Regions from separate parts of the Homo sapiens genome. Here region 1 is linked to region 2. The links come from fine-mapping of genetic effects on gene expression. A gene starts in region 2. The other region holds a variant in brackets. All regions are shown on one strand. Distances are from middle to middle.

Region 1 (8,325 bases), 43 kb after region 2:
CTCCAGGCTTTTGTCCTCAAAACCCCAGAACCACTGCAAGGACTGCTCGTCCCTAGGGACTCCCCACAGGGGTGAAGCTGAGCCACAGCCTTGGTGTGACAAACTTCCAGGTGCAAATTGGAAATTGCCTACTTCCTCCCATTCCATAACTTCTGCTCGTTCTCTGAGTCAAGCAGGGAGGCACGGGCCACACACACACGTGCACCTTACGCCTGGTCCATGTCCGTGTCATAGTAAACATAGTAGTTGGTGGACGGCAGATGCAGGTCCTCCTTGGTGCCTCGCAGGCAGATGAAAACAGAGGTCATGCCTAAGCCGGGCTGAACTGTCCCCAGCTGCTGCTTCACACCTGCAAAGGGGAGTGGTTGGTGCCTTTGTGGACCATGGCCGGAGACAGCCACTCCCTGCTCCCAGGAGAGCCTCAGGGTGACCGCTCGCTGTGTCCTGAGCCTTATCTTCAGTTGCCAGCTTTGTGCCCAGGCCACTTTTACAGCTGTTTCAACTTGATGTTGGCAGGGGCCTGCTCTTCTGTGTCCTCCTGCCTGGGAAGGACACTGCCCCAGGTTCCTATTCTTCCACCTCCCCTGCCTCTGCTCCAAGCCCCTTCAGAGGCAGGTAAAGCCCAGCCCTGGTCCTCAGCCCCCATGAGCTGGCTCAGCACCTGCAGGAAGGTCAAGCTTACTGCCTCCCATCTTCCCCTTCGTGTCTTGAAGTGTGGAGCACATGACTGGGTTCCCCCCATGAAGACCACACATGAACAGCAGCTCATTACCAGCCTGATTTCAGGATGAACTTTTATGCAGTCACGGAGTGAGTGAACATGCATGATTCTTAGTGTGACATCAGAACACAAGGCCTCCAGAGGGATGCCAATGCATGTGAGCAAAGGCAGGCAGCCTGACTGGTACTTGGCATCTCAGGACTCAGCTGGAGGGAGGAGGGAAGAACTACACTATGGCAGAGGCCACAGCCACTGTGGGGCACCTGATGTTCCCCAGACCTAAACAGCTGGGCTTCCCCACTCCTCAGCAGATGACCTGAGACCGGTGTTCCGGAAACTGCCCCCACAGATTCTTCTGCTGTCTTCCCATTCCCGTGCCAGAGGGATGCCGGGTCCCTGGCTCCTCTGCTTTTTCCATTTTTTAAAAAATTTATTTATTTTTAGATGGAGTCTTGCTCCGTCGCCCAGGCTGGCATGCAGTTGCGCGATCTCTGTTCACTGCAACCGCCTCCCGTGCTCAAGCGATTCTCCTGCCTCAGCCTCCCAAGTAGCTGGGATTACAGGCATGTACCACCACACCCACTAATGTTTGTATTTTCGGTAGAGATGGGGTTTCACCACGTTGGCCAGGCTATTTTCAAACTCCTGACCTCAAGTGATCTGCCTGCCTCGTCCTCCCAAAGTGCTGGGATTGAAGGCGTGAGTCACCGTGCCCGGCCTGCTTCGTTCATGTAACTAAATATTTGTGAGGCCCTCAGGTTGTGTTCAGGAGGAAGAGACACAGGAACACAGATGGAGGGCAAGAGGGACAGATGGCTCTAGCTGGGCTGCCTGGGTGAGATGCTGGGGCCTGGCCAGGACAGTGTCAGTTCCCAGAGGTCCTGGGACAGGGGAGAAGGGAGGTCAGGGTCACAGAGAGAGAGGCAGGAAGTAGCAAAGGCAGAGTCTGCCTGTGCACCAAGCCCGACCCCCCTGCTCTGCCCCTGGGCCGTCTCTACCTCACCCCCTCAGCTCCCCCGGTCTGAGAGAGGGGAGGCCGAGCAGGCTGCAGACCCAGCCACATGGGGCAGGGGAAGGAGAGGCTGGCATTGGTGGAGCCACCCACTGCACTGCCAGTCATACAAAGAAGTCTATCACACAGAATTATGTGCAGTATTTTTTTTTTTTGAGACAGAGTTTTGATCTTGTCTCTCAGGCTGGGTTGCAATGGCACAATCTCGGCTCACTGCAACCTCCACCTCCTGGCTTCAAGCGATTCTCTGGCCTCAGCCTCCCGAGTAGCTGGGACTACAGGCGGCCGCCACCATGCCCGGGTAAGTTTTGTATTTTTAGTAGAGAGGTTTCACCATGTTGGCCAGGCTGGTCTCGAACTCCTGACCTCAGGTGATCTGCCCGTCTCGGCCTCCCAATGTGTTGGGATTACAGGCGTGAACCACCGCGCCTGGCCTATAGTACTTTTTAATGAACGAAATGACTATGTTACTGGTTTATGTATTTGCTATATTTTTATTGTTTTAAACAAAAAAGTTTAAGAAGTAAAAAAAAAAATGTTTTTGTTTTTGTTTTCTTTGAGAGGGAGTCTCGCATTGCTGCCCAGGCTGGAGTACAGTGGCATGATCTCAGCTCACTGCAACCTCCGCCTCCCGGGTTCAAGAGATTCTCCTGCCTCAACCTCCCTAGTAGCTGGGATTACAGGCGCCCGCCACCGTGTCCGGCTAATTTTTATATTTTTAGTAGAGTTGGGGTTTTGAGGTCATGGTCTCAAACTCTTGATCTCAAGTGATCTGCCCACCTTGGCCTCCCAAAATGCTGAGATTAGCAGGCATAAGCTACTGCACCCAGCCCCAAAAAAGACTTTAATTAGAAAAAAGCTCATAGAATAAGGATATAAAGAAAATATCTTTGTGCAGCTGTACAGTGTATTTGCGTTTTAAGCTAAGTGTTATTACAAGAGTCAAAAAGTGTTTAAGTTGATAAAGTAAAAAAGTTAAACTAAGGTTAATTTATTCTTGAAGAAAGAAGAATATTTCTTTATAAACCTAGTGTTGCCTAAGTGTACAGCGTCATGGTTACTCACCACTCACTGACGCACCCAGAGCAGCTGCCAGTCCTGCAAGCTCCATGCCTGGGAAATGCCCTATACAGCTATGCCATCTTTTATCTTGTTTTTTGTTTTTTTTTTCCCCAAGACAGAATTTTGATCTTGTTGCCCAGGCTGGAGTGCAACGGTGCGATCTCGGCTCACCGCAACCTCTGCCTCCTGGGTTCAAGCAATTCTCCTGCCTCAGCCACCTGAGTAGCTGGGATTACAGGCGCCCACCACCACGCCCAGTTACTTTTTGTATTTTTAGTAGAGACGGGGTTTCATCATGTTGGCCAGGCTGGTCGCTAACTCCTGACCTCAGGTGATCCACCCTGCTCGGCCTCCCAAAGTGCTGGGATTACAGGCTTGAGCCACTGCACCCGGCCCATCTTTTATCTTTTACACCAGATTTTACTGCACCTTTTCTATGTTTTGTTTCTGTTTTTTTTGAGAAAGAGTCTCACTCTGTCGCCCAGGGTGGAGTGCAGTGGTGCGCTTTCGGCTTACTGCAAACTCTGCCTCCCGGGTTCAAGTGATTCTTGTGCCTCAGCCTCCTAAGTAGCTGGGATTACAGGCATGTGCCACACACCTGGCTAATTTTTGTATTTTTAGTAGAGATGGGGTTTCAACATGTTGGCCAGGTTGGTCTCGAACTCCTGACCTCAAGTGATCCACCTGCCTGACCTCAAGTGATCCACCTGCCTCGGCCTCCCAAAGTGCTGGGATTACAGGCGTGAGCCACCACGCCCAGCCACCTTTTCTATGTTTAGATACATAAACACTCACCACTGTGTCACAGTCACCTACAGTATTCAGTACAGTAGCATATGCTGTACAGGCTTGTAGCCTAGGAGCAATAGGCTATACCATATAGCCTAGGTGTGTACACCATCTAGGTTTTTCTAACTACACTCTATGATGTTCACACAATAAAATTGCCCAACGACGCATTTGTGAGAACGTTGTCTCAGTTGCTAAGCGATGCATGACTGTATATGAAATGTCTAGAATAGACAAGTTTGGAGACAGAAAGTAGATTAGTGGTTGCCTAGGGCTGGGGGAGATGGGCAAAATGTGGAGTGATTTTCAAAGGATATGGGGCTTCCTTTGGGACTGACAAAAACTTTCTAAAATTGACTGGTGATAGGTGCACAACTCTGAACATACAGCCAATGAATTGTCTACTTTTTTTTCTTTTCTGAGATGAAGTTTTGCTCTGTTGCCCAGGCTGGAGTGCAATGGCGCTGTCTCGGCTCACTGCAACCTCCACCTCCCGGGTTTAAGCGATTCTCCTGTCTCAGCCTCCCAAGTAGCTGGGATTACAGGTGCGCACCATCATGCCTGGCTAATTTTTGTATTTTTAGTAGAGACGGGGTTTCGCCATGTTGGCCAGGCTGGTCTCGAACTCCTGACCTCAGGTGATCCACCCGCCTCGGCCTCCCAAAGTGCTAGGATTACAGGTGTGAGCCATCGCACCCAGCCTGAATTGTATACCTTTTTTGTTTGAGGCAGAGTCTTACTCTGTTGAGAAGGCTGGAATGCAGTGGCACAATCATAACTCACTGCAGTCTTGAGCTCCTGAGCTCAAGCAATCCTCCTGCCTCAGCCTCCTGAGAAGCTGGGACTACAGGCTTGTGTGCCACCATCCCCAGCTAGTTGCTTTTTTTTTTTTTTTTAAAGAGATCAGGTCTTGCTATGTTGCCCAGGCTAGTCCTGAACTCCTGGCCTCAAGTCATCTTCCTGCCTCAGCCTCTCAAAGCATTGGGATTATAGGCAAGAG[C/T]GGCTCTGCCCAGCTGAACTGTATACTTTAAATGGGTGAAGTGTAACTTTAAATGGCTGAAGTATATCTCCATAAAGCTGTTACAAAAAATTAATTGTGGTGCTAGATACTATGGAAAGTATCCAAAAGATGCTTCCTCACATCTTGGCAATTACGAGTCAAATGGGTGATAGAAGCATAAGCTGAATGTCATTCCAGGCGGCAAATTCATTTAAATCAGCTGTGAAAATGATTACCCCCTTTGCAGCTCAGTCATGGACACTGACTGGCCCATGCACATTTGAGACAGGAAGCTGGGTTCAGGTTTTCTAAGGGTGTCAGGCATGCCTAACATTCCCCTGTGGCAAGTGGCAATCTTCCTTTGCATATCTGCGAAAGTCTAACACAGGGTTTGGGAGTGAAACAAACAGGTGGTTTGATTCAACAAAAGCACTAAAGAAACACTCAGAAAAGGTCTTGCAACTGCAATTTTATTTTCTTTTGTGAAAATAAACAACTGGGAGTTTAAATTGCTCCAAAAACCATAAAAACAAAAAGAAATACACACAGAAGAAGCATGTGAGGTGATGGGGAAGGGAACAGGGTCTCTAGAACTTTGGCAGATTGTGCTGGCACGGACCCAGGTGACAGGAGCCAGACCATGGGGCCGGTCCCGCCTGCCACTCTGGGATTGTGAAGGGATGATCGCCACTGGCAAGGACGGGGAGGAACACAGACTTCTTCGCTGAGGAAGTGGCAGGCACCTTGAGTCCCTTTAAATGCGGGGGTTGGGAGGAAACCATTTCAGAGGACCGCTTTCTCCACTGAAAGCTGGGGCTGGCGAGTTCGGGCCCACTGAGGGAGGGGACGCTGGTGGCAGCAAATCAGGCCAAGATGTCTTCTCACATGGTGATGGCCTCACACTGGGCAGAGGACAGAGGACGAAGAAGAACCCACGGTATTGAGCAGACGATGAAAACTTGGGCTGGGTAACAGGAAATGTCACAATGGCAGAGCTGCAGATGGAGTCGGGGAAGCTGGGGCAGGCGGCAGGGGCGAGAAGAGACAGGAGACAGAAAGTGCAAGAGAGGTAAGAGAGAGAAGTGCCCTCTGCCCAGGTCCATCCACCACAGCACCTACAGGACGAATAGCACGCTACTTTTCAGTTCTCTTTCTTATAAAGATTTTTTTTTGTTGTTTTGTTTTGTTTTTTAAAAAAGCCTTAAGATCAGCTACTGGTTACATCTACAAACTGTAAAGTGCTGTTGTTACCAGCCACTTTACAGAACAGTCCAGAGTGGTCAAATATTGACCAATAAAGTCTCCTTTTTCTTTTTCTTCTGAATCATTACTACTCAATGAGTCATGTGACAGCCTGCAGGGGTCGGGGGGAGCTTAGTGGGCAGACTTGGTGACCAGGGAAAGAGGCTGGGCCTGTAGCACCGGGAGGGCCTGGTGGGCATGGAGCGTGGCGGGGAAGGACGGGGGAGAGGCCAGCAGAGCTGTGGGCATGGACCCAAGGGGGAGGGGCCGGGACAGGAGGGGAGGCTGGCTGCCCATCTGCCCAGAGGAGGAGGCTGCAGCCTTAGCCGACAGGAAGGCGGCAGAGTGGAGAGCCAGCTGGGCCCGGGTTTCTGGTTTGGTGGTGAGGGAGAGGGGCTGGGCTTGCTCCGAATGGGTGGCAGCAGGGGCAGCTGGTGAGGCCAAAGCTGCAGAGGGAGTGGCCGGGGAGTCCAGCATGCTCCCGTGGGAGGAGGCAGGGCTGTCACAGGGCTTCTCGGGGGGCAGGTACTGAACACATGGCTTCTTGCTCTTGGAGGCCAGGGCACCTAGGGGGAAAATACAAGAAAGAGTGAGCAGCTATAGCTCTGTGAGAGGAGGAGGCTGAGGAACAGCCCTGGCGATACATGTGCTTTGGAGACACAGGGATGATTTTGGCGAGGACCTGACATTACTTCCAAGGCTTTCAAGACTAGGAAACTGCATTCACAAATACCCAGAGCACAGAGAAGAGGCAACGCCCAAACTGATGAAGATCCACCCAGCATCAGATCGGAGAGAAGACGGCTCAGTGTCTCACAGGACCACCCTCCTTTCCTAAAGCTGGTAACTTTTGGGATGAATCTCCAGTTTGCTTTGAAATCTTTGGTTTATGGTATTAATACAGTCAGAGAGAGTGCATGCCTGCTGAACAGCGTGCCAGACAGCGGGTTCTGTAGCAGGTACGGGTTCCACTCATGTGCGCTCCTATGTATAATGGAAGGAAGGAAGGAAGGGAGGAGGGGAGGCAAGGAAATAGGGAGGGAGGGAAGGAGAAAGGGAGGGCGGAAGGAGAAAGCGAGGGAAGAAGAAAGGGAGGGGGGGAAGGGAGGGAAGGAGGGGGAGAGGGAGGGAAAGAGAGGGAGGGAAAGAGAAAGGGAGGGAGAAAAGGAGGGAGGGAAGGGGAAAGGGAGGGAAGGAGAATGGGAGGGAAGGTGAAAGGGAGGGAGGAAGAAAGGGAGGGAGGGAGGAATGAAGAAGAGAGATTGAAAGCACTTTACATCGTGCAAGCAGCGATACACTTGTCCTGGAGTGAGCATGAGATGGGGGGCGTGACCTAAATATTAATAATAATCGTCACAGTGTGAGCATCTTTCTGTGCTAGGCATGATTCTGGTAATATAGAGATTTTATACATGGTTTTGACACAAAGTGCCTCCTAAACCCAAGCAAACTAATTTTTTCTGGTGTTCAACCAAAGAAACATCCAAGGAAACCCGGGCTCCCCTGGATCCACTGACAGGTGGGATGTCAGGGGCTCATGTGCTGCCTTCCTAAGGGTATTTCAAAGACAATTTCAACCTCATTCCATTAACCCTCAGGTAGGATGATTCACTTTTCAATGGAATTAGATTGTCTAGGCTTTGAAGTGACAAAGTCCTGGGATCAAATCCTACCACCACCACTGAAGCAGAGTGCCTGGGAAAATGCCTTCACATCTCAGAGCCTCTTAAGTGGCCACCTCGAGAAAGGGGTAATAATACCCGCCCGCGAATACCGAGGCAGAAGCCCTGACCCATCAGGGAGCTAGAGACAGCATGGGCAGGTGTGGCTGTGACAAAAGGAAAAGCAGGAGAAGAGGCCAGTGCCCCGAGACGCACCCTCTGCCTCCTGGACTTGCTGCTGTGACTGTGTCTGGGACAGCTGCTTTTCTCTCTTCCTCTTCTTTTTCTTACCCTGGAAAATACAGCCAAAGGAAGAGGTAAGCTGGGAGAGAAGAATGCTGGCTTCTCAGGGGCTCCCAGATCAGAGAGAAGACAGGACGTTGCCCTTTACTGCTCTCGATCCCTCAGGGAGAGTGTGGAGAGATAATTCAGATCACAGCCGTGGGAGCCCGTGAGGAGGCAGAGGGAGCCCTTCCTCCCCTACAAACGCGTTTCCCCTCCAGGTCGGGTGTCCAGGCCTTCTTGGAAGGCCTCCTCCCTCCACTGCCCTTCAGACTCTGTTTTTCTGTTTCTCTCCCTAGAACAGTGCTTCTAGATCTTTTCTGAGGGGTCCCAGGTCCCTTTGAAAGTTTGATGCAACTGTGGGTCCTCTTACCAGAAAAAAAGCAAAGAAGAACACGCATGCGAAAATTGGCTTGGTTTCCGGGAGCTTAGAGACACGCCCCCTGAGGCTCACACACTGGTCTTTGAGCCCTGGGTTAGGAGTGGCTGGAGACAACTCTTCCTACCACAGCTAACCCCGTGCCCTGTGTTATGAAATCGAGGGCAGAGTCCAGTT
Region 2 (8,277 bases):
TTTTTTTTTTTGGAGACAGAGTCTCACTTGGTCACCCAGGCTGGAGTGCAATGGTGTGATCCCAGCTCACTGCAACCTCCGCCTCCTGGGTTCAAGCGATTCTCTTGCCTCAGCTTCCTGAGTAGCTGGGATTACAGGCATGCACCACCATGCCCAGATAATTTTGTATTTTTAGTAAAGACAGGGTTTCATCATGTTAGCCAGGCTGGTCTCCAACTCCCGACCTCAAGTGATCTGCCCACCTCAGCCTCCCAAAGTGTTGGGATTACAGGCGTGAGCCACTGCCTCCAGGCTCTTATATTTCTTTTATATGTTTCACAACCATTGGCACAGTACTAAGCACAAAATATATTTCTCAAATTTTTGTTGAAATTTTATCTCTAAAATATTTGGTGATTCATTGTGCTGAACAACTTCCTGCAGGCATCTGTGTACCTGAGATTCATTTCATCCTTCCTTTCCTTCTCCAATTCAGTCCCCTCCAGTGTCCAAAGACTTCCCTCTTTGGAACAGTTCGCATATTACTACAGTGAAGAAAATCTTTCTGGAGACCCAAAGCAAAGGCTTTGTCCCAGTCTGGCCACTGAATCCCACAGCCTCCATTTAAGACCATTTTTGGGTGGGCAAAGTAGTGTGAAAGGTAAGGCATGTAGGGTTAGCTGCCCGGCTCATACAAAGACATATCACATTGAACTGAGTCCTGAGGATGATCAGGCCAAAGCAAGCGTTTCACAGGGAAGAGGCTAGTAAGGTAATGATCCAAATCAATGAAATACAGATTTCTTGGGTGATTCCTCAATGAAATTCTCCCCACTACCCAAGCAAAAAGAAAACAAAAATCTCATAACTCACTTACAAAACAAGCTATTAGGAAAAGCAATTGACCCTGAGGTGAATAGAAGCTCCTTCTTACAGAACAAAGAGAACTATAATGAGGGTTTCTAAATTTTTCCAAATATTCTCTTAATATATTCTTACTATACTTAATGATATATCTCAAACCAACACCACCTTTCCCAAATAAGAGTGCATGCTTACCTGTCCATCTCTTAATTCTTCTTTACTATGGAAAGAGCAAGATTTTTCATTCATGACTCAAAATCATTTGTTCATGTGAGCTTTGTCCTTGGGCCCAGAAAGCATTTTAGTAAGGTCTGAGATCAGAAGCTATGTGGAGAGCCAGAGATCCAGTTGCTCTACCTTTGCCTTCCTTGGCAGTCACTCAGACTAAGAGTAAGAAAACAGTCCCTTTGTGCCATCCGAGGGTGTAGGAGGTTTCTGTGAGTGCTGAGAGAAGTCCTCTGAGGTCTTCGAAGCCTCAGCTCTGCACAAAAGAAAAAAAAGAAATTGAAAAAGAAAACTGGTTTCACCATTCAGTTATGCCTCTGTTGACAATTTTTTTTTTTTTTTGAGTTGGAGTCTTGCCCTGTTGCCCAGGCTGGAGTGCAGCCGTGCGATCTCGGCTCACTGCAACCTCCGCCTCCCGGGTTCAAGCGATTCTCCTGTCCCAGTCTCCCGAGTAGCTGGAATTACAGGCGTGCGCCACCACACCCTGCTAATTTTTGTATTTTTAGTAGAGATGGGGTTTCACTATGTTGGTTAGGCTGGTCTTGAACTCCTGACCTCGTGATCCGCCTGCCTCGGCCTTCCAAAGTGCTGGGATTACAGGCATGAGCCAACACGCTCGGCCTGTTGACAAAATTTAAGCAGCTGTGAATTTATTCTGAATGAACAACTTGCCTCAGCCAAATGCTTACCTCTTACTACCCAAGCCACAGGATGGCCAAAAGGGGACCACACAGGGGACTGTGAGCTGGATTCTGTGTCCAAAAGGCAGCAGCACCACTAGAAGGGATGGGGTCTGTTTCTGACAATGGAGTTACTGGGACCTGGGCCAGCTTATCAAAGGCGTGAGGCTAAAGGTGTCACCTTGGTGGGTGGTCTTAGCTGAAGTGCTCAGGCTTTGTTTAGGCCTCACACACAGGCTGGGTCAGGGGCTTATAATACTAGACCTGGTTCCAACAATGGTAGAAATTCAAAATGCAACACGATGTTCTAACCTTTCTCAGTTATCAGCAATACTGTGCATGTGGCAGCTGGCTAGCCAGTTTGGGCAATTCTAAGTCTTTCATCTGACATTGCTTCCCTCAGGAAAAGGGCTGGACAAGGCTCATACCTCATCACAGGGGAATTGGACATCCGGAATGTCTGTCACATCAAAAATTGCATCCTAAGTGGGCAGATGGCCCACACACAACTGACAATCATAGTTCACAACTTTGGGTGACTAAGGAAGGAGGGTAGCCTCTCTATGAGGTCAGCCCTCCAGGATGCCATAAAAACTGGCTGCTGGTGTCAGGATGCTTTGATTATTAACACTGAGAGGAAGAATACCTCCTGGCTCTTGGGCTTGACATGTGGCTCACTGTAATCCGGGGGACAGGGCAATGCCCCCTTAGTCCTGGCACCCCAGGAACTAAACTGCTCTCACTGTGGCCTCTGGGGCCTCAACATCTGCCTCCCCTTTCCTTTTCCTCCATCATGGCCTCCATGACAGCCTATGACAAAACACACATTGGCCAGCCTTGGCAAGGTGACAGGCGGGTATGGTAATAGCAATCTCAGGAGGGCTCTTCTGTTGCTGTGTAGAAAATGAACCAAGTAGCATAGAATCGTGACCAGCTTTCCACACCTGGCTGGAGCACTCCTGGGGCCTTCAGTAGGGACAGTTACTATCTGTAGCAGAGAAGAAAAGAGCAACAATTCCATTAAACAAGGAAGTACTCAAAGGCAAATTCCTGATAGTTGGACCTAAGGAAACGGCCTTCCTGTAAAAATGGATCCTTCTCCAATCAAGTATTCATTATGCACCCTCTTTAGGCAAGGAGGGGGTATGATTCTTCAACTGCTTGCTGGAGGTTAGATTCTCTGCATAGGAATTTAAATTAGATGGGCCCTTAGCTGATCCTTTCACCATGCTTGTCCATGGGCGGCTCCCCGTCCCCCAGGTTCCCCACGGATGGGGTGTCATTAGGGACCCGCCATAGAGGACTCCGTCCCAGGCGGGCCCCCAGGACAAAACTATGGGCCACTTTGAGGGGCACAGAGACAGACGCTCACCGGTTGTGATGCGCAGGTAACAGAGAGCTCAATTCATCATGACAACCAGTCAGACAGGGGCTGTGAGCAGCCTTTGGACAGAACTTTCGCATAGCCTGGAGGCGTAAGACGAGGAAAGCAATTTAACACCTCAAGGCAGCGAGTCCAGGGCAGAGCCAGGACCAGAACTCAGGACTCCTGTCTCCCAGTCGGGATTCTCTTTCAGTCTTACAACTCTCGGCCTTGTCTCGCCCCATAGTGATAATTTCCACCGGATCACATTCTCCCTCCCTCCTCAGGCCGGCTGCTAGCTCCGCACAGGCACCAACCACTCCCCTTGGCAAGTGTTAACGCGTTCTCACCGTTAAAAGAGCTTTCCAAACTTGGGGGTCCCGCCGCCTCGGCTAGGCCTCATCTGCTCATGCGCACAGCCGCTTCCGTGCCGGCTCCCCTGGCCCCGAGAACTACATTTCCCAGTAGGCAATGGAAACCCAAAAGAAGTACGGAGAGCCGGGAGGGTCAATCATCACCTGAGAGTTGGCTCTTCGCTGGCTGGCTGGTTAATCAGTGCTCAAAGCTGCCTCCGCCTCCTGACTGGAGAGCGAACTAGCCCGGGCGGAGCCACAGTCCTAGAGGCTGAGCGCAGTCGGAGCTGTCCCATTTACCCGACCCGACGCCGGCGTGATGTGGCTTCCGCTGGTGCTGCTCCTGGCTGTGCTGCTGCTGGCCGTCCTCTGCAAAGTTTACTTGGGACTATTCTCTGGCAGCTCCCCGAATCCTTTCTCCGAAGATGTCAAACGGCCCCCAGCGCCCCTGGTAACTGACAAGGAGGCCAGGAAGAAGGTTCTCAAACAAGGTAGCAGGAGGGACCCTGGGGTCCGGGGCTGCACTCGAGGCTTTCTCACAGATTTGGGTTCTCATTTTGCCAAGGCAGCCGCTACCAGACGTGGGCCTTAGTTTCCCCATATGTAAAGTACTAGGAGGGCTTCCTTGCACGTGGAGGAGCCCCGCTTTAGTGTGCAACACTGTCGATAGCCTTTGCCCTAGTAGGCCCCGGGAATAGTAGTCCCAAGGGTGTGGTCATTGTCCTTGGTTTGCAAGGTGTTGGCACCCGCCCTGCCACTTGTAATCCCCGTGGCTCGTGGAACTGATAATCCCCGTGACTCATTCCTCCACTTGGTTCCAGGACCTTAACTTTTTCACCTACCCTCCCATGCGAGCTCAGGGGTGTGGGGGAGCAGCACAGAAATGCGTAGGAAATTGCGTTTTGCCCGTCCGGTGATTTAACAGGCTTTGCATGGTCCCAAATCGTAAGGATTGAACCCTAGTTCTGAAACATTGGCAGAGGTTCAACAAGGCGCCTCAGGCTCAGAGCCTGCTCTCCACTCTCATCTTTAAAACATATTTTGTGGTTGCTTCTAGAGTTTAAAGAGTTCTGCTGCTTTAAAAAATAATGGATCACCTGTTTGATCTACGGAGTCCCTCTCACTTGTAAATTTTAGAATTCTCCGTGTCATATCTTGCTACACAATCGGAGACAGTACTGTTCTAAGTGGAAGGACTAATCATCTGGACTTCTGAGAACTGAGTTTTAGCTTGGACTCTGTCACTAATTTGCTGCATAACCATTAGCACCTACCTGGGCTGGTCTAAAAATGAGATGACTAGCTTAACTGCTTTTCAAACCGGATTGTGATCTATTAGTGGGCTATGAAATCAATTTAGTGAGTTGCAACTGGCATTATTTATTTATTTATTGAAACAGAGTCTCGCTCTATTGTCCATGCTAGAGTGCAGTGGCGCGATCTCCGCTCACCGCAACTTCCGCCTCCTGGGTTCAAGTGATTATCCTGCCTCAGCCTCCCGAGTAGTGGGCATGCCCAGCTAATTTTTGTATTTTTAGTAGAGACAGGGTTTCACCATGTTGTCAAGGCTCTCGAACTCCTGGCCTCAAGCGATCCGCCCACCTCGGCCTCCCAAAGTGTTGGGATTACAGGCGTGAGCCATCACGCCTGGCCACAACTAGTATTTTAGAATGCAGTAGAATAGAAAATATCAGAGTGCATTATACATAGTTCCACTAAGTATTGCATTGTGACACTTGTTTCATGTATTTATCTTATATACTTACATGTGAAATTTTTTTTTACTATTGATCTCTCTAAAAACATTAAAAAAATAAGCAGTTTGCCAAGTTCTCTTGTATCTTGAAACATCCCAGATCTCAGTTCTTTGCCAGTGATTGTTAAAGAACAGATCTTGTGTCGGAAGTACCCATATAGCACCACTTGCTATCCAGTTTTGTCTTCTGAGAAGGTGCTGCCTCCCTCAGCACTGCCCCCAGACCTTCCCTATGGGAGGGGCTGGTGCTGTGATTTCTCAGAGCTGCAGCCTCTGAGCAGTTCTGTCCTGCCCAAGCCTTTTCATCAGGACCTGGAAGAGCCACCATAAGACCCAGCTATTCCACTATTGCTTGCAGACCCTGCATCTTCCAAAGAAACCCGGCTTGTGGGCTGGTGTGTTGGCTCATGCCTGTAATCCCAGCAATTTGGGAGGCCGAGGTGGGTGGATCACTTGAGGCCAGGAGTTCAAGATCAGCCTGGGCAACATAGCAAGACTTTGGCTCTATAAAACATAAAATAGGCGGGGCGCGGTGGCTCATGCATGTAATCCCAGCACTTTGGGAGGCCGAGGCAGGCGGATCACGAGGTCAGGAGATCGAGACCATCCTGGCTAACATGGTGAAACCCCATCTCTACTAAAAAATATTAAAAAAAAAAATTAGCCGGGCGTGGTGGTGGGCACCTGTAGTCCCAGCTACTCGGGAGGCTGAAGCAGGAGAATGATGTGAACCCAGGAGGCGGAGCTTGCAGTAAGCGGAGATTGCGCCACTGCACTCCAGCCTGGGTGACAGAGTGAGACTCCGTCTTAAAAAATAATTAAACACATAAAAATAAAAATAAAAATAAAATGGCCCGGCATGGTGGCATGCACCTGTAGTCCCAGCTACTCGGGAACCAGAGGCAGGAGGATTGCTTGAGGCCAGGAGTTCAAGGCTGCAGTGAGCTGTGATCACATCACTGCACTTCATCCTGGGCCATAGTGAGACCTTGTCTCAAAAAACAAATAAGCAAAACCCCAAATCTGCCTGGCTGGTTCTGAGTATTCCCAGGTAAAATGTTTGAAACATGTTAGTCAAGAGTTCTGTGCCAAACCACTCTAGAGGTTTCTTGCACTGTACAAGCTAGAGAAGTCTTCTTTGGTTTCCCTATCTTTGCTATTTCCCTGCCCCTGCCTGAGAAACCCACCCTTTGGCCCTTCTGCTGTAGCTTTTTCAGCCAACCAAGTGCCGGAGAAGCTGGATGTGGTGGTAATTGGCAGTGGCTTTGGGGGCCTGGCTGCAGCTGCAATTCTAGCTAAAGCTGGCAAGCGAGTCCTGGTGCTGGAACAACATACCAAGGCAGGGGGCTGCTGTCATACCTTTGGAAAGAATGGCCTTGAATTTGACACAGGTAAGGCTTGTGTGGAAAAGGGTTGGGAGCATGGCTGTATGTTGAAGAGGCTTGGAGCAGCCCTTGTGGGGTGATACTGAGCATTTCTGTTGTTTTGGAAGTGCCATCTTCTCTCTGGGTACTTTTTTTCTTTGTTTGTTTCAGACAGAGTCTCACTTCATCACCCAGGCTGGAGCGCAGTGGTGTGATCCCAGCTTACTGTAACCTCTGCCTCCTGAGTTCGTGATTCTCATGCCTCAGTCTCCCGAGTGGCTGGGATTACACTCAGTAATCCCACCAAGTGGGCCACCACACCCCGCTAATTTTTTTGTATTTTAGTAGAGATGGGGTTTCTCCATGTTGTCCAGGCTGGTCTCGAACTCCTGACCTCAAGTGATCCACCTCCCTCTGCCTCCCAAAGTGTTGGGATTATGGGTGTGAGCCACCGTGCCCAGCCTCTGGGCAGTTTTCTTATGTGACAGCATAGCTACTGGGAGTTGAATCGGGCAGCGATCTGGCGGTTTCTGCTGTGACACCTCCCTACAGACAGAGTGAGCAGCTCACTCTGGGCGTGAACTTGGCCAGGCCAGATAAACTCTTCCACCTCACTTCCTCAGCCACCTTTCCAGGGCTCAATCCCCATATCCCTTTACTACCTTGTTTTTCCATCTCCCAACAGGAATCCATTACATTGGGCGTATGGAAGAGGGCAGCATTGGCCGTTTTATCTTGGACCAGATCACTGAAGGGCAGCTGGACTGGGCTCCCCTGTCCTCTCCTTTTGACATCATGGTACTGGAAGGGCCCAATGGCCGAAAGGAGTACCCCATGTACAGTGGAGAGAAAGCCTACATTCAGGGCCTCAAGGAGAAGTTTCCACAGGAGGAAGCTATCATTGACAAGTATATAAAGCTGGTTAAGGTAACATGGACATGCTGAGGACCCAGAGTTTGTTCTCGATAAGGCTGGGTTTCTTTATTATTAGTGGAGGCACTGGGGGTGGAGAGTGCAGTGCGGGAGGCAGGAAGGGAGGAAGAGTCACATCTGTTCTTAGCTCAGCCTCCACCCAAGTCCATCCAGTTCTCTGTCTCTCTCTCTCTGGAGCCTTGGCTCCACGGCTGCTGCTGTCACCCTGGCCTCTGGGGATGCCCTGCTCTCCTCCCTGACTAGGCTGGCTTCCATGACATCAGATCACTACTCCTTTTTACTGCATCCGAGACCAGATTGGGATTTTTGAAAAGGAATTTGAGCAGGAAAATTAAAAGCAAAAAAAGGACTCATCCGAGTGTAGGATGGGAAAAATTCACAGAGTATAGATTTTTTAAAAATATTCAAATTCAGCAAAGTTCAGTCAGGGGTAAGTGTTGCTGGATTCTTGGGCTGGTCCAGGCTATGGGGATAGCAGTTCTGTCAAAGCGGTTCTAGAGGTGAGGCCTGCTGTCCTCATTCACTCCCCCAGGTGGTATCCAGTGGAGCCCCTCATGCCATCCTGTTGAAATTCCTCCCATTGCCCGTGGTTCAGCTCCTCGACAGGTGTGGGCTGCTGACTCGTTTCTCTCCATTCCTTCAAGCATCCACCCAGAGCCTGGCTGAGGTCCTGCAGCAGCTGGGGGCCTCCTCTGAGCTCCAGGCAGTACTCAGCTACATCTTCCCCACTTACGGTGGGTACTGGGCCTGGGCTCTGGGC

What was found. PIP is the estimated chance that this variant, and not a neighbour inherited with it, causes the effect.
Region 1: its variant is fine-mapped to the expression of RETSAT in cerebral cortex (GTEx, PIP above 0.99).

Annotation. Positions count from the first base shown.
Region 1 is chr2:85,307,096-85,315,420 of GRCh38, reverse strand. TCF7L1 (transcription factor 7 like 1) reads right to left here. Exons shown (of 12, transcript NM_031283.3): 11 at 7,704-7,779; 12 at 5,034-6,392. The coding sequence ends at 5,959. Among named protein-coding and RNA genes, the nearest start is that of TGOLN2, 17 kb to the left of the region's middle. RefSeq lists enhancers at 1,536-2,036, 4,902-5,785. The variant C/T (reference allele first, on the strand shown) is at 4,585.
Region 2 is chr2:85,350,014-85,358,290 of GRCh38, reverse strand. RETSAT (retinol saturase) reads left to right here and starts at 3,763. Exons shown (of 11, transcript NM_017750.4): 1 at 3,763-3,955; 2 at 6,429-6,611; 3 at 7,270-7,511; 4 at 8,050-8,251. The coding sequence starts at 3,784. ELMOD3 (ELMO domain containing 3) reads right to left here and starts at 3,522. Exons shown (of 14, transcript NM_001135022.2): 1 at 3,462-3,522; 2 at 3,121-3,215; 3 at 2,693-2,736; 4 at 1,039-1,324. The coding sequence starts at 1,092. RefSeq lists enhancers at 3,066-3,125, 2,760-3,259, 3,296-3,695, 3,260-3,761.